Linked DNA regions of Homo sapiens: all the other regions are linked to region 3. Evidence: fine-mapped expression QTL. A gene starts in region 3. Each other region holds a variant in brackets. All regions are shown on one strand. Distances are from middle to middle.

What was found. PIP is the estimated chance that this variant, and not a neighbour inherited with it, causes the effect.
Region 1: its variant is the best candidate, but not a certain one, in a credible set for the expression of REEP1 in cerebellar hemisphere (GTEx, PIP 0.67).
Region 2: its variant is the best candidate, but not a certain one, in a credible set for the expression of REEP1 in cerebellum (GTEx, PIP 0.73).
Region 4: its variant is the best candidate, but not a certain one, in a credible set for the expression of REEP1 in whole blood (INTERVAL, PIP 0.71).
Region 5: its variant is the best candidate, but not a certain one, in a credible set for the expression of REEP1 in lung (GTEx, PIP 0.58).
Region 6: its variant is the best candidate, but not a certain one, in a credible set for the expression of REEP1 in unexposed skin (GTEx, PIP 0.64).

The regions. Positions count from the first base shown.
Region 1 is chr2:86,233,729-86,237,817 of GRCh38, reverse strand. The region is part of intron 5 of REEP1 (receptor accessory protein 1); the gene reads left to right. Among named protein-coding and RNA genes, the nearest start is that of MRPL35, 36 kb to the right of the region's middle. RefSeq lists a silencer at 2,058-2,352. The variant C/T (reference allele first, on the strand shown) is at 2,194.
Region 2 is chr2:86,226,752-86,230,840 of GRCh38, reverse strand. REEP1 (receptor accessory protein 1) reads left to right here. Exons shown (of 9, transcript NM_001371279.1): 7 at 3,443-3,478. Among named protein-coding and RNA genes, the nearest start is that of MRPL35, 29 kb to the right of the region's middle. RefSeq lists an enhancer at 1-129. The variant G/A (reference allele first, on the strand shown) is at 2,472.
Region 3 is chr2:86,335,359-86,339,447 of GRCh38, reverse strand. REEP1 (receptor accessory protein 1) reads left to right here and starts at 1,822. Exons shown (of 9, transcript NM_001371279.1): 1 at 1,822-1,969. The coding sequence starts at 1,938.
Region 4 is chr2:86,143,342-86,147,430 of GRCh38, reverse strand. IMMT (inner membrane mitochondrial protein) reads left to right here. Exons shown (of 15, transcript NM_006839.3): 14 at 1,234-1,363; 15 at 2,550-3,495. The coding sequence ends at 3,163. Among named protein-coding and RNA genes, the nearest start is that of SNORD94, 9.5 kb to the right of the region's middle. RefSeq lists a silencer at 3,219-3,419. The variant A/CA (reference allele first, on the strand shown) is at 2,166.
Region 5 is chr2:86,208,779-86,212,867 of GRCh38, reverse strand. MRPL35 (mitochondrial ribosomal protein L35) reads right to left here. Exons shown (of 4, transcript NM_016622.4): 4 at 1-2,388. The coding sequence ends at 2,200. Among named protein-coding and RNA genes, the nearest start is that of MRPL35, 11 kb to the right of the region's middle. The variant T/C (reference allele first, on the strand shown) is at 1,845.
Region 6 is chr2:86,310,429-86,314,517 of GRCh38, reverse strand. The region is part of intron 1 of REEP1 (receptor accessory protein 1); the gene reads left to right. Among named protein-coding and RNA genes, the nearest start is that of REEP1, 25 kb to the left of the region's middle. The variant A/G (reference allele first, on the strand shown) is at 2,481.

The sequences.
Region 1 (4,089 bases), 100 kb after region 3:
CTGGGCACGGTGGCTCACACCTGTTCCAGCACTTTGGGAGACCAAGGTGGGTGGATCACCTGAGGTCAGGAGTTCGAGACCAGCCTGACCAATAAGGTGAAACCCCGTCTCTACTAAAAATACAAAAATTAGCCGGGCGTGGTGGTGGCCACCTGTGATCCCAGCTACTCAGGAGTCTGAGACAGAAGAATCTTTTGAACCTGGGAGGCAGAGGTTGCAGTGAGCCAAGATTGTGCCATTGCACTCCAGCCTGGCTGACAAGAGTGAAACTCCATCTCAAACAAACAACAACAACAACAGAAAAAACAAAAAGAGAGAAAGAAAATAAAAAGGAACGCATTAGCACAATAAGTGGTTAAGATCTCTCTAACCTCACTTTTTCACTTTCAGAGTCTCCCGAATCACTTTTCAGCTCGGCGTGTCAGTATCCACTTATGACCATGCCATATCATTCTCTGTTCCTTCTAGTGTGTTGGGTGATGTCGAGCTGTTGTTTCTGGGATTTTCATTCATGCCAGTTTTGATGCTGCCACTTTCTTGATCATACCAGAAAGTGTCAGTGAGATATGTGTTAGACAACTGAGATTCATATTCCTTTCTCAAACAGTTCTTAAATGGTTTGTTAATTAAACACTCAGGGGCTTCAGTTGTCCAGTTATGCCAGGGAGAATAACAACCAAGTATATCTATGTGTAGGCGTTGACAATGATGTCAGGGCGGCAGCAATTGTAAGACCCACCCCAATTTCAGAGATGAAAAATACGTCTTAAAATTGATGAAAATCTGCTGGGCGCGGTGGCTCACGCCTGTAATCCCAGCACTTTGGGAGGCCAAGGCGGGCGGATTACGAGGTCAGGAGATCGAGACCATCCTGGCTAACACGGTGAAACCCCGTCTCTACTAAAAATACAAAAAATTAGCCAGGCGTGGTGGCGGGCACCTGTTGTCCCAGCTACTCTGGAGGTTGAGGCAAGAGAATGCGTGAACGCGGGAGGCGGAGTTGCAGTGAGCCGAGATTGCACCACTGCACTCCAGCCTGGGCGACAGAGTGAGACTCCATCTCGAAAAAAAAAAAAAAATTGATGAAAATCATTTTCAAGAAGTCTAGGAGTAGGTGGGTGTTGTCATTATTATTCTGGTGACTTAGCGATGTCTTTTTAAATTTTAAAAATAGAAACGGGATCTACCTATGTTGCCCGGGCTGGTCTTGAACTCCTGGGCTCCAGAAATCCTCCCCCCTCATCCTCCAAAGTGCTGGGATTGCAGGCATGCACCACCAGATGGGCCTTCTCAGAGCTTTTAGTATGATAATGTGGCTCATGGAATTATGGGGAATATGGTATTAATGCTTTCCAAATTTAGAGAATCCAAATTTATTTCCCCAAAGTAGGGAAACCAATTTTGCAGAATACCAATGAACAACTCGTGGTTCTTCCCAGAAGACAATGGTCTAGAATAACAAAGATTCTGCAGAGCGGAGCTGAACAGACAGTGTGGAATGGGGTTTGTGGAAAGTGAATAGGAATGAGATTTTGTGTAGAGACTGAGAAGGGCTGAAAGGTTTACAAAAGAGAGAGGCATGTTGATTTTTTTTTTTTTTGAGATGAAGTTTTTGCTCTTGTTGCCCAGGCTGGAGTGCAATGGCATGATCTTGGCTCACTGCAACCTCCACCTCCCGGGTTCAAAAGATTCTCCTGCCTCAGCCTCCCAAGTAGCTGAGATTACAGGCGTGCACCACCACGCCTGGCTAATTTTATATTTTTAGTAGAGATGGGGTTTCACCATGTTGGTCAGCCTGGTCTCAAACTCCTGACCTCAAGTGATCCACCTGCCTCGGCCTCCCAAAGTGCTGGGATTACAGGCGTGAACCACCGCGCCCGGTCAGGCATACTGATTTTAACCATCTCAGAGTGTTTTGATGGGCAAGGGCTAATTTGTTTTCAGGAGTCTTGTATCTATGCCACTATAATTTCCTCTGACACAGGCCTAGGTTGATACTGAGCTATTATTATCTCCCTCTCTTTCCTAACCTCTGCCACTGCCAGTGTGATATTGGAGCTAGACTGGCTGGCTTCTGGGAGTTGAATGGAGCACTTTGCTAAAATGAACGTGTACGATGCCTGCTGTTGCTTTCTCTCACATATGTTGCTGAGCGACAATGAGCAAGAACTGGCAAACTGTGTTGAGGGAATT[C/T]GTCCCTGGCCGTTTATTTGGGCTTGGGGTCATGAAGCTTAGGAAGTGACCTTTTCCACCTCTGCTTTCAATAGCAACCTTTGTGTCTTAGGCAGCTTTCAATAGCTTTCAATAGCAACCTTTGTATCTTAGGCAGTAGCCACAGCATCAACATCATTATCATCATAGTTGACATTTTTGAAGACTAAATATGCAATGGGCTATGTGATGGGTATCTTAAGGATGTAATCTCATTGAATCCGCACGAGCAGCCGGCCATTTGGATCCTCTTCTGCAAATGAAGGTCTTGAGGTGGAGAGAGGTTAAGATCACTCAGCTGTTGAATGACAGGGCTGGAATTTGAATCAAGGCCTGACTCAAGAACTGCTGTTCTCAATCTTCACTTTCTGTAGCTTCTGCTAGGATACTTCTGTGTTGTATCTGTACATTTGTCGTTCTCCGCTTTCTCAGAAATCAAACTGTATTTTTGGTGTTTCATGTTAGCACCTAGCACCATGTTCTTGCCCATAAAAAGTACTTGGTAATTGTTGAACAAGTAAAGTAAACGAAGAAATGAGAGGATGAATGAAAGAGTGAGTCAGTGAACAGTTTGCTTGAACACTAACCTAACATTGAGTTACTCACTTATAATTAGCAGAATATTTTCTCACTCATTTCAGAATCAAGTTTTGTTCCTTAGTCATCAAATTTCTTCTAAATTCTAGATGCTGCCTAGAATGTTTCTGCGTAAAATAATCATGGATCATTGGCTGCTATATTTGAAGGGGTTATATAATGGGTGTCTGGCTGGTCCAGCCTCCATTTTGCTGGCAGAGACCACCCAGCTGTTCCTGCCAAGGACGTGAGACCTTGGACCCTTGCCCAACCATCACTCTAGAGCAGTGTCTGAGGCAACCAGGGTGATTTCTGTCTTTTTTCATATAATATCCTCCAAATACTTCTTGGCCTGGACTTACAATTCTTTTTAAATAGTTTTCTTTGTGTTATTGTTGTTGGTTTCCTGGTGACATGGTTTTTATATCTTTGGTAGGTTGGGAACAGATCTAGTTCATATTTTAGTGCATCTTGCTTTTAGTCTGGCACTTCTTTCTTTCTTTTTATTTTTTTGAGACAGGGCCTCACTCTGTTGCCCAGACTAGAGTGCAGTGGTATGATCCCGGCTCACTGCAGGCTCTACCTCTTGGGCTCAGGCGGTCCTCCCACCTCAGTGTCCCGAGTAGCCGGAACTACAGACATATACCACCATGCCCAGCTAGTTTTTAAAATTTTTTGTAGATACAGGGTCTCGCTTGTTGCCCAGGCTGGTCTCGAACTCCTGGACTCAAGCAATCCTCCTGCCTCAGCCTCCCAAAGTACTGGGATTACAGGCATGAGCCACCACGCCTGCCCTCTTCTGGCGTTTCTTCTAAACCTGACTGCAAGCCCCTTTTTTTCCCCCTCCCCTCTAATGAACTCATTTTGCGTCTGCTCCTTGATCCTATCTGGATTTTTCACTTCAGCGAATTGCTGTGCTTTGTTGGTTCATTTTCATTATTTTTTATATTAAGTAAAATGAAAAAAATCTTCCAAACCCTTCTCTCACCCCTGAAAACCTCTTACTCAACTGTTTTGGCCCTTGCTTATTTCATCAATCCCACCAGCAGCCCTCTTGTCAGCGGCTTGAATTGATTTTGTGCTGATTTGTTGGTTCTGTTATGTCTGTTGTGCAGTATTGTCCCCCTGTCCCCCAGATCTCTGGGACCACTCTTTCCTTCATTATCCAAGTGGCATAGAAAACCTCTCCCATGCCACTGCAGTGCCATGCACCCGAGGGAACCCTGCACACCCTCCAGGCTTTCTTCTTTCTGAAGATGTCTGAGTTCATTCATTTGCCTGGTAGTTACTTGCCTGTCACTT
Region 2 (4,089 bases), 110 kb after region 3:
GTTCGAAGGGGGTAGCCACTTGCTCGCCGCATGACCCGGGCGAGCTATTTACCATCTCTGCACCCTAGATTTCTTATCTACACAAGGAATGACACCCCTTTGTAGAGTTGTTGTGAGGCTTCAAATGAAACCAGCCATGTGAAAGTGCTTATGGCCATGCCTGGCGCCAGTGCATAGTAGCTGTTATCATTGTTCTTTTTGTAATTTGTCTCTCCTGAGAAGGCGCATTGTCATGCTGCAAGTGTCCAGGAGCAAAATGGGCCATCTTGGGAGGTAGTGAGGTCCCTGACATTGGAAGGACACAAGCCAAAGCTGGATGGTCAGGTTCGAGGGAGGGATTCCTGCTTTGGCTAGGAAGCGGGCTTAGGTGGCCCTGGCGTCCCTTTGCCTCTAAGAGTCTGTGTTGCCATTTTAGAGGTGAGCCCAGTGGAGGAAGCAGGCTCAGAGAGGTTGTGCACTGGGCTGAGGCCCCCAGGCCCAGAATCCAGGCCTCCTGCCTAGACCTCCCCTGGTGAATTATTCAGGGCAGCCTCAGAACTGGGAATGCAAGAAGCTGGCAGGGTCTGCAGGGAGATGGCAGTGTCTTCTGGGCCTGGAGTATCTTCCCAGCCCAGCATCAGGTAGAAAAGCATTTGGGATGATTTGCTTTGGCACTGGCTCTGCCACTCTCCATGAGCAGAGGTGATGACGTCCCCTGCCATGCCCCAGGGAGGCAGTGGGGAGTGTTCTGGCTGTCCCAGGCTGAGAGGACCAGCTGTGCTGCATTATGCCCCAGCCCTCCTCACTGCTGGCCCCCTTGGCCTCCGCACCTATGACCACAGGGGGCAAAGAGGAAAGGTGCAACCCAGCAGGGAGGCCAAGGACAGTGTAGTGCTCTTTCCAGCTGTTCTGGAGCCTAAAATAAAAGCCATCTCAAAAAGGAAGACAGGAGCTGGGTGTAGTGGTTCACGCCTGTAATCCCAGCACTTTGGGAGGCTGAGGAGGGTGGATCACCAGAGGTCGGGAGTTCAAGACCAGCCTGACCAACATGGAGAAACCCCGTCTCTACTAAAAACACAAAATTAGCCAGGCGTGGTGGTGCATGCCTGTAATCCCAGCTACTCATGGAGTAGCTGAGGCAGGAGAATCGCTTGAATCGGGGAGGCGGAGGTTGCAGTGAGATGAGATTGCACCATTGCACTCCAGTCTGGGCAACAAGAGTGAAACTCCATCTTTAAAAAAAAAAAAAAAAAAAAAAAAAAAGGAAGACAGGTGAAAGATGGCCTGGGGCGTGGATATGGGGCAGAATTTCCTGGGTCAGAGGCTCTTGGGCTATCATACCCTGAAGTAAGGTCAACATGCCTAGGAGGAAGTCTGGCAGAGGAAGCCAATTTATACCGGGCTGGTGTACTCTCCCCAGCTCAGCCCCCAGTGTGGGCCTCAGATGCCAGGCCAGATCAGGTAGCAGAAAGGGCCCCAGAAAAGGGGAAGAGGCTAGACTTCATCCTGGCTGGGTGATGCCGGGCCTGTGCAGACACAGCAAATGCAGCACAGCAAGGCATGCTCCTTCCTCCTGAGCCTCAATTCAGCCTCAGAACTTCTCTCAGAACAACCCAGGCAGTCGCTACCATAGATTTGGCCTTGGCACAGAGGACAGACCTGATTCCCTCAGGCTTTCTTCTTTGTAAAAAAGACCGAATAGTCCCTATTCAGCCTATGTCTTAGGGTTGTGAGGAGAGCAAACCAGAGAATTTGCAAACCCTGGACAGGTGGCAGGGGTTGAAGACAACCTGGAGAGAGGTGGGAGCTGCACCTCGTGGAATTCTCTGCAGCTGCTGGAAGCAACAGATTAAGGGTGCACACAGTGGAACTTGAAAGCATGATGCCAGGTGAAGAAAAGTGCAAAACAGAATGAGATTTTATCTAACAATTTATGTAAAAAATATATGCCTATCATGCAAAGTAACAATACGGAGTTTATATGAAGAACATGTTCAAACAAAAAGTTGCACATTAAAATATTAAAAGTGACACTCCTTGAGGAGGAAGGAGAATGTGAGTGGGGTGTGGGAATAAAAGTCATGTAAAGGCACATAAAAAGGGTTGCCAGGCGCGGTGACTCACGCCTGTAATCCCAGCACTTTGGGAGGCCAAGGCGGGTGGATCACCTGAGGTAGAGAGTTTGAGACCAGCCTGACCAACACAGAGAAACCCTGTCTCTACTAAAAATACAAAATTAGCTGGGCGTGAAGGCGGGTGCCTGTAATCCCAGCTACTCGGGAGGCTGAGGCTGGAGAATTGCTTGAACCCGGGAGGCAGAGGTTGCGGTGAGCTGAGATCATGCCATTGCACTCCAGCCTGGGCAACAAGAGTGAAACTCTGTCTCATTAAAAAAAAAAAAAAAAGTGAAGGGGATCCCATGAACCAGTGTGGACCATTTGCTGTGAGCCAAGAAGGGACATCCATGTGACCTCCTGCATCTTGAGAAAAGG[G/A]AGGAAGATGCACACAAACGAGGAAGGGAGGAAGGGGCACAAAGACTGTCCCTGCACGGTCACTCAGCGCTGCAAGCTCCTGGCAGGCAGACAAGGGTTCTGTGCTTCCCTCTGTAAATGCCTACCCAACATACTCACCACATGCCTGGCACACAGAGACCTCTGTATGTGCAGTGAGGACACAGGGTCTAGGCGTTGGAGAAGGGGAAGGAGAGTTCTTTCCTGTTGCTTTCAGCACCCAGGATGGGGCTGGGCAGTGTACTTGGCCTGACCCTCTCTCTTGCCTGGAGTTTTCCTCTTTGCTTAAAGGGTCAGGGCAGGCAGGGACTGACATGGCCCTCCCTGCAGAATGAGCTGGAAGGTGTGTAGTCAGATACCATATGCTGAATGCCTAGCACTGGACACCAGGAAGTGTACAAGAAATGTTGAAAGAATGATCCTGGCCTTCCATGGACTTGGAGTCACTCAGTGAGCATGTATTTAGTGAGCACCTACTCTATTGCCAAGGCCCAGATGTGCACCAAGACCAATGGCGTGTACAAGGCAGCAGCCAGTTAGGCCTTTGCAAATGCCCAGATGCGAAGCACTTTGGGGTTCAGAGGTAAGTCTGGGGAGGTTTCCTGGAGGACATTCTGAACTGGAAAGCAAAGAGAGGAGGAGGCTTTGGGCAGGGGTGCTTGGAGTTATTTTCCAGAGGGAACTTTGACTCTGTCTCCGGCCTTCCCTAGGGCTGCAGGGTGCAAGGACTGACTTTGTGTGCCAGGTGAGGGTATCTTCTGCACCTGAGCAGAAACTGAATCTGAGATGACTCTTTCCCCACTTTGGTGTCTCTACAGAGACCCACCTTCCTGGGATCCCTATATTGTACACACTGGGATCCCCACACCTCTCCAGGGCCTCCCTGTTTGCCCGGGGCTGGTTCCTGTCCAGTGGGGGATGTCACTGATGGTGCCCCTACCCCATTCCCACAGTGTGTACCTGCTGCTCCACCTGCAGGACCTGGAAAGGTGAGTAAGCAGCCAGCCTCTCCGCAGCGTGCTGGACTCTCACTCGGAAAGAGCTTCTAACCAGGAGTGGGCACCTGACCCTGGGGCTCCCTTTCAGCTGCATGGTCATAGGGAGGGGTCAGGAGGTTAACCCTTTATAACAGCAAACACAGTAGCTTACAGTTCCTGTGGGCTAGAAATCTGGGAGCAGCTTAACTGGGTGGTTCTAGCTCAGGGTCTCTCAAGAGGCTGCAGTCAAGATGTCAGCCTGGGCTGAGTTATCGGAGGGCTTGACGAAACTGGAGGGTCCACTTTCAAGATGGCACTCTTATGGCTGTTGGCTGGGCCTCTCCAAGGCTGCTTAAGAGTCCTTACAACGTGGCAGGTGGCCTGGCCTAGAGTGAGCCATTCAAGAGATAGAGGGCAGGCAGGAAGCCAGGGTACCTTTTCTGTCCTAGGTTTTGAAGTCACACTCATCACTTCTGCCTTATTCTATTTGTTGGAAGCAAGTCATTAAGCACAGCCCACATTCAAGGGGAGGAGAATTAATCTCCACCTCTTGAAGGGAGGAGTATCAAAGAATGTGTGGAGATATCTTAAAACCACCACAGGGTCACTGGGCGGGGTGGCTC
Region 3 (4,089 bases):
GTGAAATAAGGCAAGCAGATATAGGATAGGCTAATTTGGATAATTTCAGCGGGTTCTGAAGTACAGGGGCTGTAACTAGTTGTTTGGTGCCTAGCCCTGGACAGGTGTATAGTGTCCCGCGTGTGAGAGCCTGCTAACGGAAGTGGTTGGGGGTATGCAGTTAATAGACTGCTGGAGAAGGGGAACTGACCAGCCTCCAGCCTGAGCCTCAAAACTGGGTCAAGGCAGCATGAAAAAACTGCTACATTACAGCTATTTTATGGGTTCTTTGGAGACCTGAGATATGAGAGCATGTCTCATCTGCAGTCCCTTTGTTGTCCGTGAAGTCTTTCTTCTGACTATATCAGGCACACGCACGCACAGATTCTGCTACATCTGAGAGTACTAAGCTGTCTCCTGCGCTTCTCACATCTGACACTGAATTATACATGACACCATCATCAGCAAAGGACAGGGCGCTGGGAGCACCACGCAGAACCTAAGCTATTGGAGGGTGGGAAAAGCAGCAGCAGAGCCTAGGAGTAGAGGACAAAGCGTTTCCAGTGTAACAGAATAATGTACTATCTGCGGCCGGGACTAGGGTGAGCAGAGTGAGGCGCTCAGTGAGGGTGCAACATTTAAGAGGTGCCATAAAATTCAGCAACTAAAATACATAATAGGTGGCTCACTCCTGTAATCCCAGCACTTTGGGAGGCCAAGGCGGGCGGATCACGAGGTCAGGAGTTTGAGACCAGCCTGGACAACATGGTGAAACCCCGTCTCTACTAAAAATACAAAAATTAGCTGGGCGTGGTGGCGCACTCCTGTAATCTCAGCTACTCATGAGGCTGAGGCAGAAGAATCGCTTGAACCCGGGAGGCGGAGCTTGCAGTGAGCCGAGATCGCGCCACTGCACCCCAGAGCGAGACTCTGTCTCATAAAAAAACAACAACAACAAAAAAAACCACCATAATATTTAATACGGTATTTTAAAAAATACATAAAAACGTTTATATAGGGTGCACAAGTTCCCTTTTGCCTAAGAGTTCAACGTGGCTCAGCGGGGCACTGGTGCTAAGCAGTCGCAGCTTCTAGTCTCCTCCTAGGGCCCGGAGCAGCCCCCAAGGAAAGGCCTTCCCTAGGAAGAAGTAGCCCTTCAGCCCAGCCTAGAAGAAGGAGCTGAATCAAACCAAGGCAGGACGATGAGGCGTGGCGTGTACTGACAGGGAAGAAGAAACAGCAAATATTTGAGTCCAAGATGCCTGGAGGGAAAAGAGCTAGAGGACTATTTGGGGGAATGGTCTTGGCAACACGGTTCTAGGCAGGTACCACGATCATATAGGGACTCTGTAGAATTTTAAGTAGGGAGGCAAGCGCCCAGGTTTGTTTCTTATGCAGAAAGTGCTGAGCAACGGACAGACTGAAGAGGTTAGGTCTGGATCCAGGTAAACCCTTTATGAGGCTAACGCACTAGCTGAATGAGGGATGACAGCATCCCACCTAGACAGGTGCAGACAGATTCCCGAGGTTCAGGTTCGGACTTCAGTTTCTCCGCTGGAACGCTGAGGGTGGGGCAGCACCCGGGTCCCTGCCCTGCAAACGGGGCCGCTGCAGGGTTCCTTTGGCGGGGCCGGTGCCCCGGGGAGCGCGCAGGACGCGCCCGCCTTCAGCCGGGGGCCAGGGCGAGCGGGACGGGGCGGGCCCGCGGGTGCCCTGACCAGCTCACCGCCCAATCGCTGCGGGCCCGCCGAGCCCCGGGGGGCTGGGGCCGCCGCCGCCGCCGCCAGAACGTGCCGCGGCTGCGCCAACGCGCGAACGCCGGGCAGGGCGGCGGGCGCGCTCAGTCTGGCGGCGGCTGCCGTGAGCTGACTGACGTTCCGGGAACGCCGCAGCAGCCCGCGCCGCCCGCAGCCTAGCCGAGCCGCGCCGCCCGGGCCTCGCCCGCCCGCCTGCCCGCCATGGTGTCATGGATCATCTCCAGGCTGGTGGTGTAAGTGGCCTTCTCCCCCGCGCCCCTCCGTCCCCTCCCTCCCCGCCCCCGGCCCCGGGCTGCGCGCGCCCCTACAGCGCCCGGTCCCAGTGGCTCGGGCTATTAATACCCGGCGCAGCTAAATTTAGCAGGTACAGTAGCCGCCGAGGACGCCTGCGGGCGGACGGGCGGCGCAGGACGCGGCTGCTGCCCAGGAGGCAGCCGGCGCCGGCGGCCGCTTGCGGGGGGCTGGGCCGGGACGGCGAGGGCTGGGGCGCTCGGGGGTTCCGTGGGGGCTGCGTCTCGCCGCGCGCTGGCCGCTTTGTTCCTCAGCTCGGTCGATTTGCAGAGGCCCCGAATGGGCGCACCGCGGACACGCGTCTCTCTCCTTTGGCAGAAATGTGAGGTCGCCCGGCGCCGCGCCCCGCCGCCCCAGCTTTTGTCAGGTGGAAAGGACAGCGCAGACGAACCAGGGGCGCTGCCTGGAGGGTCAGCGCGGAACGGGTGGAGAGGCAGAGGCGGGGCTCCCAGTGGGGTTGGAAAAATCCTCCTTTTTAGGTGTCTGCATCGACAGCGGCAAAGGCAGCTGGGACATGGGAAGACGCATGTGAATCTTGGAGTAAACGCCTGGAGCCCCCGGCTCCGACTCCTTTTGCAGGGGATTGAGAGACAGGGGCAGGTACCTCCAGGAATGCACGGGAAATTTTCAAGTGACAGCCACCCGCATGGTGGCGATGACACCTCCCAGGCCTTGCAGGAGAGCGCAGAGTCATCTAGGGTGAGGTCTGTGTGAAGTCATTGGGGGTGGGCGTGGGGGCCGATTTTCTCCTTCAAGCCCCAGGACCTGTAGGCGTTTGAAGAGCTTCCCCGGTGGATTTATTCTCCTTTGGAGATAGACGTGGCTGTTCCAAGTCCCTGTTCTTCCCTAACCATCCTGGCCTGAGTCAGAACAGATTTGCCACCTGCTGTAGCTAGCAGGGGCTGAAATGGGTGTGGGGAGTCTAAGGCGGGGAGGAGGGTGGCAGGCACCTCGGGCTTTTTCTTTGTCTGAGAACACGGGGCTCTGGACCCCAGTGATTGTGCACCATCACTCCCCACGTTTTGAAACACCACCCATCTCCCTTCCCTTCTTTACTGATTTTCCCTTCCGAAGTGGATCTCAGCATTGTCTCCCGCCACCATTCAGGGCTTTCCTCCCAAAGCCAGTGTCTGTGCCTCTCAGCCCCCAAGTCATTCCGTGAAGGCCTCTCCACAGCTGTTCCTGACTGCGGGGTGTTTGCGCTGCACCTTGAGGTGGCATGTTAAATATTTAGAAGATTTCTGCTGGCAGAGCCGACATGAATAATACAGGAAAGTGGCTGACACGCCTTGCCCAGCCTCATGCCTGACCAACACTGTCTTGCCTTCAGGGTGGTGTTTCCTCTCTGGGATCGATATTGCCAGTGGCTTCTGGGAAGCCCTCAGGGTGGGGCTGGAGAGTTGAGCTGGCCTGGCTGGTGGGCTCTCTGTAGGTCCTGCTGGGCTGGGAGTGAGGGCATCTGATCCTGGGTCATGTGACTATCATTAGTTTTATTAGCACTGGGTCATGTGACTATCATTAGTTTTATTAGCACCTCCCTCACCCCTGCCCTTTTTTTTTTTTTTTTTTTGAGACCGAGTCTCGCTCTGTCGCCCAGGCTGGAGAGTGCAGTGGCACAGTCTCGGCTCACTGAAGCCTCCGCCTCCTGGGTTCAAGCGATTCTCCTGCCTCAGCCTCCCGAGTAGCTGGGATTACAAGCGCCTGCCACCACGCCCAGCTAATTTTTGTATTTTTAGTAGAGACGGGGTTTCACCATGTTGGCCAGCCTGGTCTTGAACTCCTGACCTAGTGATCCGCCCGCTTCGGCCTCCCAAAGTTCTGGGATTACAGGCGTGAGCTACCACGCCCGGCTCCTCCCCCTTTTTTACAATGAGCAACTGATGGGGGTGGAGAGGAGAGGCATATATTTGGGAGGTGTCTCAGGGATGTGCTGTTGCTTTCTAAAACAACCACACTCCCTAGAACCGAGACTTCAGAGAATTTAAATGAACAGCATTATGTGGCCCAAGGAGAGTTGATGGGATTTGGGATTGTTACTTCCACTATCAAGTCCAAAAGGTCA
Region 4 (4,089 bases), 190 kb after region 3:
ATCTTCCTCCTATAGATGGCATGGTACTGCTTAGATTTTTATAACTGAGGTAATTTCCCAGAGAAGTTTTGAAATCCCAGTAAATTATCAGGATGCCTGTAATCATAGTTTCTATTCAAGAAATCATTTACAGTAATATTAACTTGTTACTTTGTCTTGCAAGAAGATATTGAGGTTTTCTAAGTAAAATCTTCCAGAGAATCGCGATGTATGTCAGTATGAAAAGGTATTTTAAATTCTATTTGGATATTTTTCTGAGAAAAATTAATGTATAAGCTCTTAAATACAAGATATTAGAATATAATTTAATCTAATTATTATGTTTAGGTTTGCAGTACAGATAATTTACTTTCTAAAGCTGACAATTTGTGGCTGAGCACAGTGGCTAACACCTATAATCCCAGCAATTTGGGAGGCTGAGGCGGGTGGATCGCTTGAGGACAAGAGTTCAAGACCAGCCTGCCCAACATGGCGAAACCCTGTCTCTATTAAAAATACAAAAATTACCTGGGCATGGTGGTGCATGCATGTAATCCCAGCCACTCCGGAGGCTGAGGCATGAGAATCGTTTGAATCTGGGAGGTGGAGGTTGCAGTGAGCTGAGGTTGTGCCACTGCACTCCAGCCTGGATGACAGAGCAAGATTCTGTCTCAAAAATAAAATACAGTTGGCAGTTTGTTTCTGACTTTAACAGCCTTCTCTCTTCTCTTGGTATGCCTCCTCTAATATTAGGTTCCATCAGTAAACCTGTAAAGAATTATATACATCGGCCGGGCACGGTGGCTCACGCCTGTAATCCCAGCACTTTGGGAGGCCGAGGTGGGCGGATCACGAGGTTAAGAGATCGAGACCATCCTGGCCAACATGGTGAAACCCATCTCTACTAAAAATACAATAATTGGCATGGTGATGCATGCCTGTAATCCCAGCTACTTGGGAGGCTGAGGCAGGAGAATCACTTGAATCTGGGAGGCGGAGGTTGCAGTGAGCCAAGATTGTGCCACTGCACTCCAACCTGGCAATAAAGCAAGATTCCATCTCAAAAAAAAAAAAAATATATTATATACATCAAATATGAGTCAGGACATTTTTGAAACTTTACACAAAATGTAGGAATTTCGTGACAACTCTAAGGCCCTCTTTGCTTCAGCAAGTAGTTGCTGGAAGATTACACAGTTACATGACATGCATTGAGTATCACTTTTTTCTGGAACTATTTCTGTTTTATTTCAGAACCTGTCTGAGAAACTCTCTGAACAAGAATTACAATTTCGTCGTCTCAGTCAAGAGCAAGTTGACAACTTTACTCTGGATATAAATACTGCCTATGCCAGACTCAGAGGAATCGAACAGGCTGTTCAGAGTAAGCATAAGCTATGTTTATCTTACAGATAATTTTCCTCAGCATAATTTATCAAAATAATTTTATAGGGAAAATGGGGTACATGTACTGACATCAGGACATAAAAATACTAATCACTCTACTTAATTGCAGTTTTTGCCATTAAAAGTAATGGCAAAATCTATATAACTAGAAATTTATACCTTGTATGACAAACACAAAATCACCATTTACAAGGCTATTTACCCAGTATCCTTTGGCTATGTCGCATGTGCCTGGGTGGTAAGGGCTAGGGGTCAGTGTGGTCCCATGCTTGCCTTCCACAGACTTGGTGGGTTATCTGGAGGTGGTGATTTGCCGAGTCCAACTACCAAATGGACAGTATTTATGCTGAGGCCTCCATGTGCCACATTGAAAGAGAAATGTCATGACAATGAGGGTATTAATAAAATGGGTTTTTTTAGGATGTTATGGAATCTTTTTTTGTCACATAACAATAAAAATAAATTCAATACTCATGGAATTTCAAGATCCAGTAGTCTGTTAAGTTCGTTTGAAGTCTCCCATTTCTTTTTTTTTTTTTTTTTTTTTTTTGAGACAGAGTCTTGCTCTGTCGCCCAGGGTAGAGTGCAGTGGTGTGATATCGACTCACTGCAGCCTCCGCCTCCTGGGTTCAAGCGATTCTCCTGCCTCAGACTCCTGAGTAGCTGGGAATACAGGTGCGTGCCACCACGCCTGGCTAGGTTTTGTATTTTTAGTAGACACAGGGTTTCACCATGTTGGCCAGGCTAGTCCTGAACTCCTGACCACAAGTGATCCACCC[A/CA]CCTCGGCCTCCCAAATTGCTGGGATTACAGGCATGAGCCATTGTGCCTGGCCCTGAAGTCTCCCATTTCTTTGCAGAAAATTTCTCATGGCCTTAGCGTTAAGTCTTAGCCTAATTTAAATAATATGTTTCTTTCTCAACTAGTAAAGGTAAAAATATGTGGATTAGATATCATGCAGATGTGAATGACTTCTGACTTTGATATGAAGAGGCCAGCTAGGAAAATACACCAGAAATAAGTGGTGGGGGTGGGGTTGTAAGAAAGTCTCTCTGGCCTCATCTTGCACATGTGTAGATGTAGCTTGTTGAATGTGCATCAGTTCTGTGGATGTATGTTGTCAGATGGAGAGAAAAATGTTTGGCTTTGCCTTTTTTTCTTTGTAGGCCATGCAGTTGCTGAAGAGGAAGCCAGAAAAGCCCACCAACTCTGGCTTTCAGTGGAGGCATTAAAGTACAGCATGAAGACCTCATCTGCAGAAACACCTACTATCCCGCTGGGTAGTGCAGTTGAGGCCATCAAAGCCAACTGTTCTGATAATGAATTCACCCAAGCTTTAACCGCAGCTATCCCTCCAGAGTCCCTGACCCGTGGGGTGTACAGTGAAGAGACCCTTAGAGCCCGTTTCTATGCTGTTCAAAAACTGGCCCGAAGGGTAGCAATGATTGATGAAACCAGAAATAGCTTGTACCAGTACTTCCTCTCCTACCTACAGTCCCTGCTCCTATTCCCACCTCAGCAACTGAAGCCGCCCCCAGAGCTCTGCCCTGAGGATATAAACACATTTAAATTACTGTCATATGCTTCCTATTGCATTGAGCATGGTGATCTGGAGCTAGCAGCAAAGTTTGTCAATCAGCTGAAGGGGGAATCCAGACGAGTGGCACAGGACTGGCTGAAGGAAGCCCGAATGACCCTAGAAACGAAACAGATAGTGGAAATCCTGACAGCATATGCCAGCGCCGTAGGAATAGGAACCACTCAGGTGCAGCCAGAGTGAGGTTTAGGAAGATTTTCATAAAGTCATATTTCATGTCAAAGGAAATCAGCAGTGATAGATGAAGGGTTCGCAGCGAGAGTCCCGGACTTGTCTAGAAATGAGCAGGTTTACAAGTACTGTTCTAAATGTTAACACCTGTTGCATTTATATTCTTTCCATTTGCTATCATGTCAGTGAACGCCAGGAGTGCTTTCTTTGCAACTTGTGTAACATTTTCTGTTTTTTCAGGTTTTACTGATGAGGCTTGTGAGGCCAATCAAAATAATGTTTGTGATCTCTACTACTGTTGATTTTGCCCTCGGAGCAAACTGAATAAAGCAACAAGATGAAAACTGAGTATCTTATCCCTTTTCAAAAAGTACAGTTCTGGCCAGGTGCAGTAGCTCACGCCTGTAATCCCAGCACTTTGGGAGGCTGAGGCGGGTGGATCACCTGAGGTTGGGAGTTCGAGACCAGCCTGACCAACATGGAGAAACCCATCTCTACTAAAAATACAAAATTAAGCTGGGCGTGGTGGCGAATGCCTGTAATCCCAGCTACTCGGGAGGCTGAGGCAGGAGAATCGCTTGAACCTGGGAGGTGGAGGTTGCAGTGAGTCAGGATCGCACCATCGCACTCCAGCCTGGGCAACAAGAGCAAAACTCCGTCTCAAAAAAAAAAAATTCTAGTTTGTTGTATGTACAGAAAATATCCTTGAGAAACAACAACAGCAGAAGTAGGAACTTCTAGCTCACAGTTTCCAGGCTGTGAATTGCGTCACCAGAAGTCCACAGCCTGCTTTTTGCCTTTGAAGGTTTTGGTGAATTGATTCCTGCTGCTCAGACTCAAAAGAGTAATATACAAGCCAAAGTGCCACATGTATTTATAATTGGGGATATATCGTTCTAGTGACTTGTTAAAATGTTGGTCTCTACCCACAAGTTAAT
Region 5 (4,089 bases), 130 kb after region 3:
ATTATACATATAATCGAACATCATTTAGGTAAACTCTTTAATGAAAGACATTTATTGTCAGATTATAAAATCAGTGTTGATGATAAGCCCTCCTACCCACAAAACAAAAATCGTATGTATGAAATTCCCTTTCCCGTAAGTTATGTGCCTGTCAGCCATCCCACTTCAGTCCATCTTTGGATGCTGAGGCTCTGGTTGCCAGTCCTTATCTCTACACCTGTCCCTGGTCTAGAGGAGAAACGAAGGTGCTCTGAGGCCCCTGTAACAGAGACCCTTGTCATCCATATTTGCAATAAAGACATCATGGAGGCTGTGCAAAAGTATCCTTCTCCCCAACTTCTGCAGGCACCATTTCCATCTCACTACCCAGAGGTACATCAGAGAGCAGGAGCCAGGCAGGTGACAAAGATGTGGAAGGCTTCTAAGTGGTTGGCTTTGCCGTCTCAGAAGTGCGAAGAAATGAAAATCCATCAAAACAGAATGCCATTCCATGTTTCAGGCTTTTACCTCACCTCAAATCAAATGTCTGTTCTTTATTTATTGGTCCCATAAGTAGACACGCACTTGGACTTCTGGTTTTAGAACATTCTATTGTTATCCTTTCTCCTTTTAATAAACACACACTAGTTTCGAGGAATCTCCCTAATAATCCTGGCCTGACATGCTGCAGAACTTCAATTTCATAATTTTACTAACAACAGAGGAATTTCATCTTATTATTACCAACTACCACATTAAAGGATCTGAAACAGTAATTCATGCATAATTCTATTTAATAATGGTTTTCAAAGTACTTTGCTGTTTGAAAATGCTTCCCAGATGATTCTGATCGGAGAGTTGGGAACCACTGCCCTAGACTGTAACCACTCAATTGAACTTTACTCAGTGCTGCTTCCCTGCCCACTTCAAGTAAACAATGCTTAACTTTTTCGTTTCTAAAACAACTGAGATTACTTTCTCCCCCTTAGTTTCTACAATGATTGTTGAAAATTTGTGGGAAAAGTTTATCCTTACAAATGAAAACATGAAATCTGAAGTGGATAAACTAACTTTTAAGAAATACATATCCTTACTCAGTAAGCTGAGGCAGGAGGACCACTTGAGCCCAGGAGTGCGAGGCTTCAATGAGCTATGATTGCACCACTGCACTCCAGCCTGGGCAACAGAGCAAAACTCCTGTCTCTAGAAAAAATAAATACCTATCTTTCAAAACTTGCATAAAAAGCCCTTGTCTTCACTTGTACAGCCTCTTCTGTTTCATGAATGAGCATGCTGAAGGGCTATTTACTCTCCTATGAAAAAATGTTGTTACAGTAAATGACAAGTGTTATGAACACAATGAACCTGGTGTGTTAGATGTTAAGTGTGCTGCCACCCCATGTGAACCTCCAAGTGAAACTGCTCACATAACTGTTTTTTTGCTGCATGCAAACCTGCTAATACAAAGCGGGCTCCTGACTTAAGGACAGCCAATCCCTACTCTAGACAATGACCCAACCAGACCTAGTATAAAAAGGTAGTCTGGCCCAGTTAAATTCCCTTGGCAATTGGAGACTAGCAGCAGGAGCTGAAGGTCATCATGTAGAAAAGAACCTCAAAGGTGCAAGTTAAAGTTATTACAAAGGAACAGAAACTGTAAGTATGCAAAAGCTGTGTAGAGAAGTTGGTGAATAGAGAGAATGGAGTTAACAATGCAAAAAGAAGCAAGTCACATGCATGCAGAGCCCAAGCCTAAACATCCACCTTCCCCTGCTGAGGAGCACCACCCAATTTCTACTCTTCCTGAGGCTGGGAGGTGATTTCTGAGTGGGAGATGGGGTTGGTGAGGTGGTTCCTGAATTCCC[T/C]GGCACATATCCTTGAAATAATGTCACATTGCTTGAGCTAACTTGTAGCTTTTGAGTCTTTTTATGTTTGTCCCACTTGAGATTCCTTGCAACTAAAAGAGCATAACTGAAACAACTAGTTAAGCCAATACCATTTGTTAAAAATAATGCACCATTCTAAATTTCTGTTTCCCTAACCAAATCTGGCAAAGTCTGATCCATTAAGTTTTAAAACTTTTCTAAGTTTAATGTTGTCACTGTATGTTTACGTATTCATTGGTACAATTTACATCAAGTTTTGTACTTATCCATTTTTGCAAAGATATGTACACAAAGATACATATCCAATAACTGAGAAACAAGTGAAACTTCTGATCTATACTTTCAGGTTTGTTCGATCATGATACTTCTGATAAGGATCATCAACGTACCAGTTTCGCCTCTTCCAGAAGGACGTCGTCATTTTATCTAAGAGTTTACTCTGGGTTTTATTGCAGAATACAAATTCCCTCAATCGCTTCTTCCTTGCAGGTGTCTTTTTCCATAATTTTTTCTTATAGCCAGCCTGTCAGATATTACAAAGAAATGTAAAACATCATACTATGTATGAAACAACAGGTATCTTCACAACTCAAGGTTTATAGACCCAATAAGAACAAAAACCAGACTTCCATAGGGGCTGGACTATTTCTTGGAAAGATGTGATTCTCAATGGCCGGGGGAAGGGAGGGTGGCGGGGAGGGGGATGGAGAAAGCATGTGTAGTTTAAAAAAGAATTAGTAATAAATCATATTTTAGAAAAAAATTATTTAAATTAAACTCACAGAAAATAAAACTAAATGTGTGTGGCTGGGAAAGTACAAGATAATGACAGAATTATAATCACTAACTTAACAGGTATGATCTTACTATCTCTTCAGCAATCTTTAACAACATACTATTATTCTATTTTACATCTTTAAAAAAAGAAACCATTGATTAGAGAAGTAGCAGACAGAGGTCTGAGGGCTAATAAGAGTTCTTTTTTTGTTTCATTTTGAGACAGGGTCTCACTCTGTCACCCAGGCTGGAGTGCAGTGGCATGATCACGGTCACTGCAGCCTCTACCTCCTGGGCTCAAGTGATCCTCCTGCCTCAGCCTCTCGTATAGCTGGGACCACAAGTGTGCACCACCATACCCAGCTACTTTTTAAATTTTTGTAGAGATAAGGTCTCACCATCTTGCCCAGGCTAATAAGAGTTCTTAACCACTGTCTTTCCTAATGTAGAGGAGGATGGAGTGCAGGCGAGGTAACAACATTAATATTTATTAAGGAGGCTGAGTATTACAAGAGCTGAGAAGCACAGTTCTCAAATATATTGCTTCATTTATTATTTTCACACACAAGGGACCAATTTTTATAGGAAGTACTTTTCTAAGGAATTATGAATATGGTAAGACTATTATTAGGAGTGGTGAAGGAATGGTTAACCCACATATTTAACCCAGAACTTTCATATACACCCATACAGGTATTATTCATTTTGAAGAATTTATTTTTAAAGACAGGAAAGGAAAATTTGATTGATTATAAAAACTATAATCATAGCCTGTTTAAACTAGAAGGGATCTTAGGTGCCATCCAGCTTAATTAACATCTGGCTAAAACCACACGGTGAGCCCTTGGGTCCTTTCAAGCCAAGGGCTCTTTATGGCACAATACCAACTGAACAAAACCATGGCTCTTTGCCGAGAATGTGCCTTGCATTTCTGACATGTCTTAGTATCATCACTGTGACCATCAACTTCTATAAGGACAGTGATGAAATAAGGAAAGGTTATTTAAGAGTTCTGGTTTTAGAATGCTAGAGGTTAGATTTTTGCTACTCACTGCTTACAATTTTAAATGCAAACATTTAAAGCCAAATCTCCACATTTGTGTAATAATTTCATAGTTTGCAGGCCAAACTGGGTTACTATGGATCTCTGACGTACAAACACCTAATTTATTGCCCTGCTCATTACCACCAGTATCCTTTAAAGATTATTCACAGAATGGAACCACTATGAAAATGCTTGAAATTTTTTAGACAATCTCTAGATTCAAAAATGGAAGGAGGGAATGAACAATAAATACCAAGGACTGCTGGATGAAACCGTGTCATGGAAAATACTTTGTTTTACACATTAGTTTGAATTCATCTACCCAGATTTTTTTTTTCTCTGAAAATTAGATTTTGAAGAGGCAGGGCATTCTATACAGGGTATACTTTCGGGAGCCCTGAA
Region 6 (4,089 bases), 25 kb after region 3:
CCCTGTCGCTAGGCCTCCTGTCCTAGCTGGCTCACCCCAGCCAGCCTGCTCACCCCACCTGGGCCTGCCTTAGCTCAAGAGAGGCTGGGATCCAAACTCTGAGGTCAGTCTGAGCCAGCCCAGCCCTGCAGTGCCTTCCAGGGTGAGACTGAGGCTCAGCATGTTCCTGGAGGCAACTCATCCAGTTTAATGAGACTCCAGGTGGGGAGGTGGTTTCCCTATAGGGCATGGGCAAATTTCTCAGCTGACAGCCAGGCATCCAAGCTGCTGCCACTGGGCTGGCAGCAGGATGAGATCAGCTGTGGTTGTGGCCTTCCTGGCAGGAGGTAAGGCACTGTGGGGCTTGGTGAAGTCACTCAGGTGGGAGCACTGCTCCCGGGAGAATTTGCAGAAGCTTCCTGGGTAGATAGATCATTCCAGTCACTGTGGGTCAGCCTTTTCTTCCCATTAGTCTGCTACTTGGCAGTTTGCAAATGGCTTCACATCTGTGGTTGGATACAAAGTCACAAACGTGGTGGCTCCTGGCTGAAATCAGCCTGCATGTTGCTTGTTTAGCTTGTGGTGTTTTAAATTTGAATCTACTTAAATAGAGAGATGTGGCACCAAAATTCAAATTTTGGGCTTCTCTTGAAGAGTCAGAAGATCTGGCACTGCAGGATGATTCCATCAGGGCAGCATCAGCCAAGCTGAGGGGTGGCTGCTCCCAGGGCCTGTGCTCCCTGATCTGCCTAGCCCCACCTGGCCCAGTTACTGCAGGCTGTGGTGGTGACCATGTCTCATCTCACACCTGGTCTTTTCCATCACTGGCCTGGCCCTTGATTCTGTATTTTCAAAGCAAACTGGGGAGGTGGGCATTAGTATCTCTGTTTTGCCAGAGAGGAAACCGAGGCTCAAACTGGTTTCAATATGTCATGTAGGAAAGTAGTCATGGCCCGATTCAATCATGGCTCTGCCATTTAACAGCTCTGTGACACTGGGTGAGTCACTTGCCCTGTCTGGGTCCCAGCCTTTCCATTCATAAAACAAAGAGGTTGAGGGCTAGCTAGGTAGCAAACTTCTCAGTATAAGAAACAGATGGAATCCAGAGAAGCTGGGAGAGGAGAAGGAAACAAAGGAGAGGTGATGGCCCAACAACTTAGCAGAAAGACATTTTAAAAGGATCTCTAGCCTTAGTAACATAGCAAGACCTTGTCTCTACACACCAAAAAAAAAAAAAAGAAAAGAAAAGAAAAACCAGCCAGGCATGGTGGTACATGCCTGTAGTCCCAGCTACTCAGGGTGTAGGGAGCCTGAGGCGGGAGGATCACTTGAGCCCAGGTGGTTGAGGCTGCAGTGAGCTGTGATTGTGCCACTGCACTCCAGCCTGGGTGACGGAGCAAGACTCTGTCTCAGAATAAAAGAAAATAAAATAATTTCTGATATTCTTTTAATCCATTTGCTTTTCTGTGATATAAACTTGCTCTGTGTCCCAGAATTTTAAGCAAAATTGGCTGTTCACACTAAAAAAGAAAAAAAAAGCAGAAGAAGAAGGATGGTAGCTAAATGCTCTCTGGGGTTCCCGTCTGAACTGATGTCTGTCACTCTGAGTAGTCATTGGCAGTGTGCTGCTAGGTGCCAGAGGAACACAGGATCTGTGCCTTGATTCCCAGACCTAAAGGCAAAACTTAGATCCATTTACCATAATAAAAATAAGTATGTTTGTTGACACATAATTTACAAGTATGCTTTATGTCAGATGTTGCATTGAAAGTCTGCATACATTATTTCTCTTAACCCTGACTGTAGCCCCATGGGGTAGGTACTATTATTTCCATTTTACAGATAAGCAATCAGAGGTTTAGAAAGGGTAAGGAATTTGCCCAGCTCTTTTTTCTTTTTTTGGAGACAGGGTCTCACTTTGTCATCCAGGCTGGAGTGCAGTGGCATGATCAGCACTCACTGCAGCCTCAAACTCCTGTTGTTCAGTTCTTAAACATTACATATTAGAGCCGTGAAGCAAATTCAAATCTGTCTGATTTTACAGCTCTTGTGTTGTCTTTGCCTAAGTGTTGCTGCAGCCCCATCTCCATGAATGGATCATTTATAGTGCAGGGCAATGAGATTAGGGTCCAGTGCTTCTGCAAGCAGGAAGAATCGTTGAAACGCAGAAGTGCTGTGGGCTGGACTGGCTGGTCCAGGGAGGGTGCATGGAAGGGGAGTAAATGGTCTTCCAAACACAGTTTGGATTCCCTTCTGCAGCCAGTATGAAGTTATGTGTGATGGTGAGATTGTGCCACTTGAAGGACCAGACTGGCCTGAAAATTAGTGTCATCTTAGGAGTTCAGGTGGTAAAGGTAGATGTTGAGGTCAAAATACAGAACTTTGCTTTCAGGCAGGGGTGAGCTGGTGAGGGTTTGTCAGGAGGAGTGATGTGAAAGCAGTGTGTCTGTGTCAAGTTGGAAGCAACAAGGGCTGAACCCGAGTCTTGGCGGTGAGAATGA[A/G]AAGAGAGGGCTGCATTGGCAAATCAGTAGAATGGGAACAATCGGCAGGACTTGAACCACACATGTGCAAATCAGAAGGAATTTTAGAAGTCATCTAGTTCCGTCTTGTCCCAGCACAGGGACTCCTCCATTGGTGACCTCTGTGATAGCTGTGCATCAAGTCACTGCCAGTGCAGGATGGTAGAACGGGATCTTACATGGCAGGTAGCTTCTAAGGCCAGCACATAGGGGTGACAGATACTCAGTGTCTACATTGGGTTGAATAATGTCTCTCCAAAATTCATGTCCACCTGGAACCTTAGAATGTGACCTTATTTGGAAATAGAGTCTTTGCAAATGTAATCAAGTTGGGATGAGTTCATACTGGATTAGGGTTAGTCCCAATCCAGTGATTGGTATCCTTATAAAAAGAAAATCTGGACACAGATTGAGACATGCAGAATACTGTGTGACAATTGAGCCAGATTGGAGTGATGCCCGTCCAGGCCGAGGAACTCCAGGGATTGACAGCAGCTGTGAGAACCTAGGAAAAGGCAAGGAAAATCCTCCCCTAGATCCTCCAGAGGGAACGTGGCCCTCATGATACTTTGATTTTAGACTTCTAGACTGCAGAATGATGAGAGAAACAATTTCTGTTGTTTTAAGCTAGGAAATTTATGGTACTTTGTTACTGCAGCCCTAGGAAACTAATGCAGTGTCCACTACCTTTAAAAACCCATCGGCCCCTGCTGGCCCCCCTGTTGCAGGAGGAAATAAGGGCAGCCTGGCACCATGCGGGCAGAACCTGGCAGGACTGGTGCAGGCTCCCGGTATTTTTCTCTTTCCTTTCTAGTGCTCACAATTATTTTAATAATTCCATCTAGAAGTTTGCATTGGTGTTCAGTCACCCCATAATTTAGTCCTAGGGGAACTTCAGTTCCTATGACTATTCCTGATTTCCGTGAATTGGCTTGAATCATCACTACCCTCTCCAGAGTGCCATCTCTCCTCCCTCCCTTAGCTGTATCTATCTACTTTTTCTTCCCTAGACCCTTCTAGACTGAAGTAGATTCTTTGTTCTGCCACCTCAAAGCACACACTGCTAGCACCAATTATTGGACAATGACCTACATAGCTGTCCAGAGGTATCATGTGTGTTTTTGTATTTCTTAACTCATAGATTTGTTTCTTTTAACTTCACCAGTGTTTATGTCTTGCCTCTTAAGTTTATATCATAGTCCTTTGAAGGCACACAGCCTGTCTTTTGCTTCCTTTTATCCTCTATACACCGTACATTGTTATTACTACACATACACACACACACATACACAGAGAGAGAGAGAGAGAGAGAAAGGGGAGGAGAGAGAAGTAATGATGGAGGATAATTTTCCTCATCTAGGAAAGATTAGAAAGGTTGAAGGTTGACTTGAAGGAGAATCTTGATCTTTAGGGTGGAAAGCATGCTCTGGCCCCTAGAAGGTGATGATATGTCTATATACAGTTATGCATTGCTTAATAATAGGGGTATGTTCTGAGAACTGTGTCACTAGATGATTTTTTCATTGTGTGAACATCATAGAGTGTACTTACACAAACCTAGGTGGTACCGCCTGCTACCCATCTAGGCTAC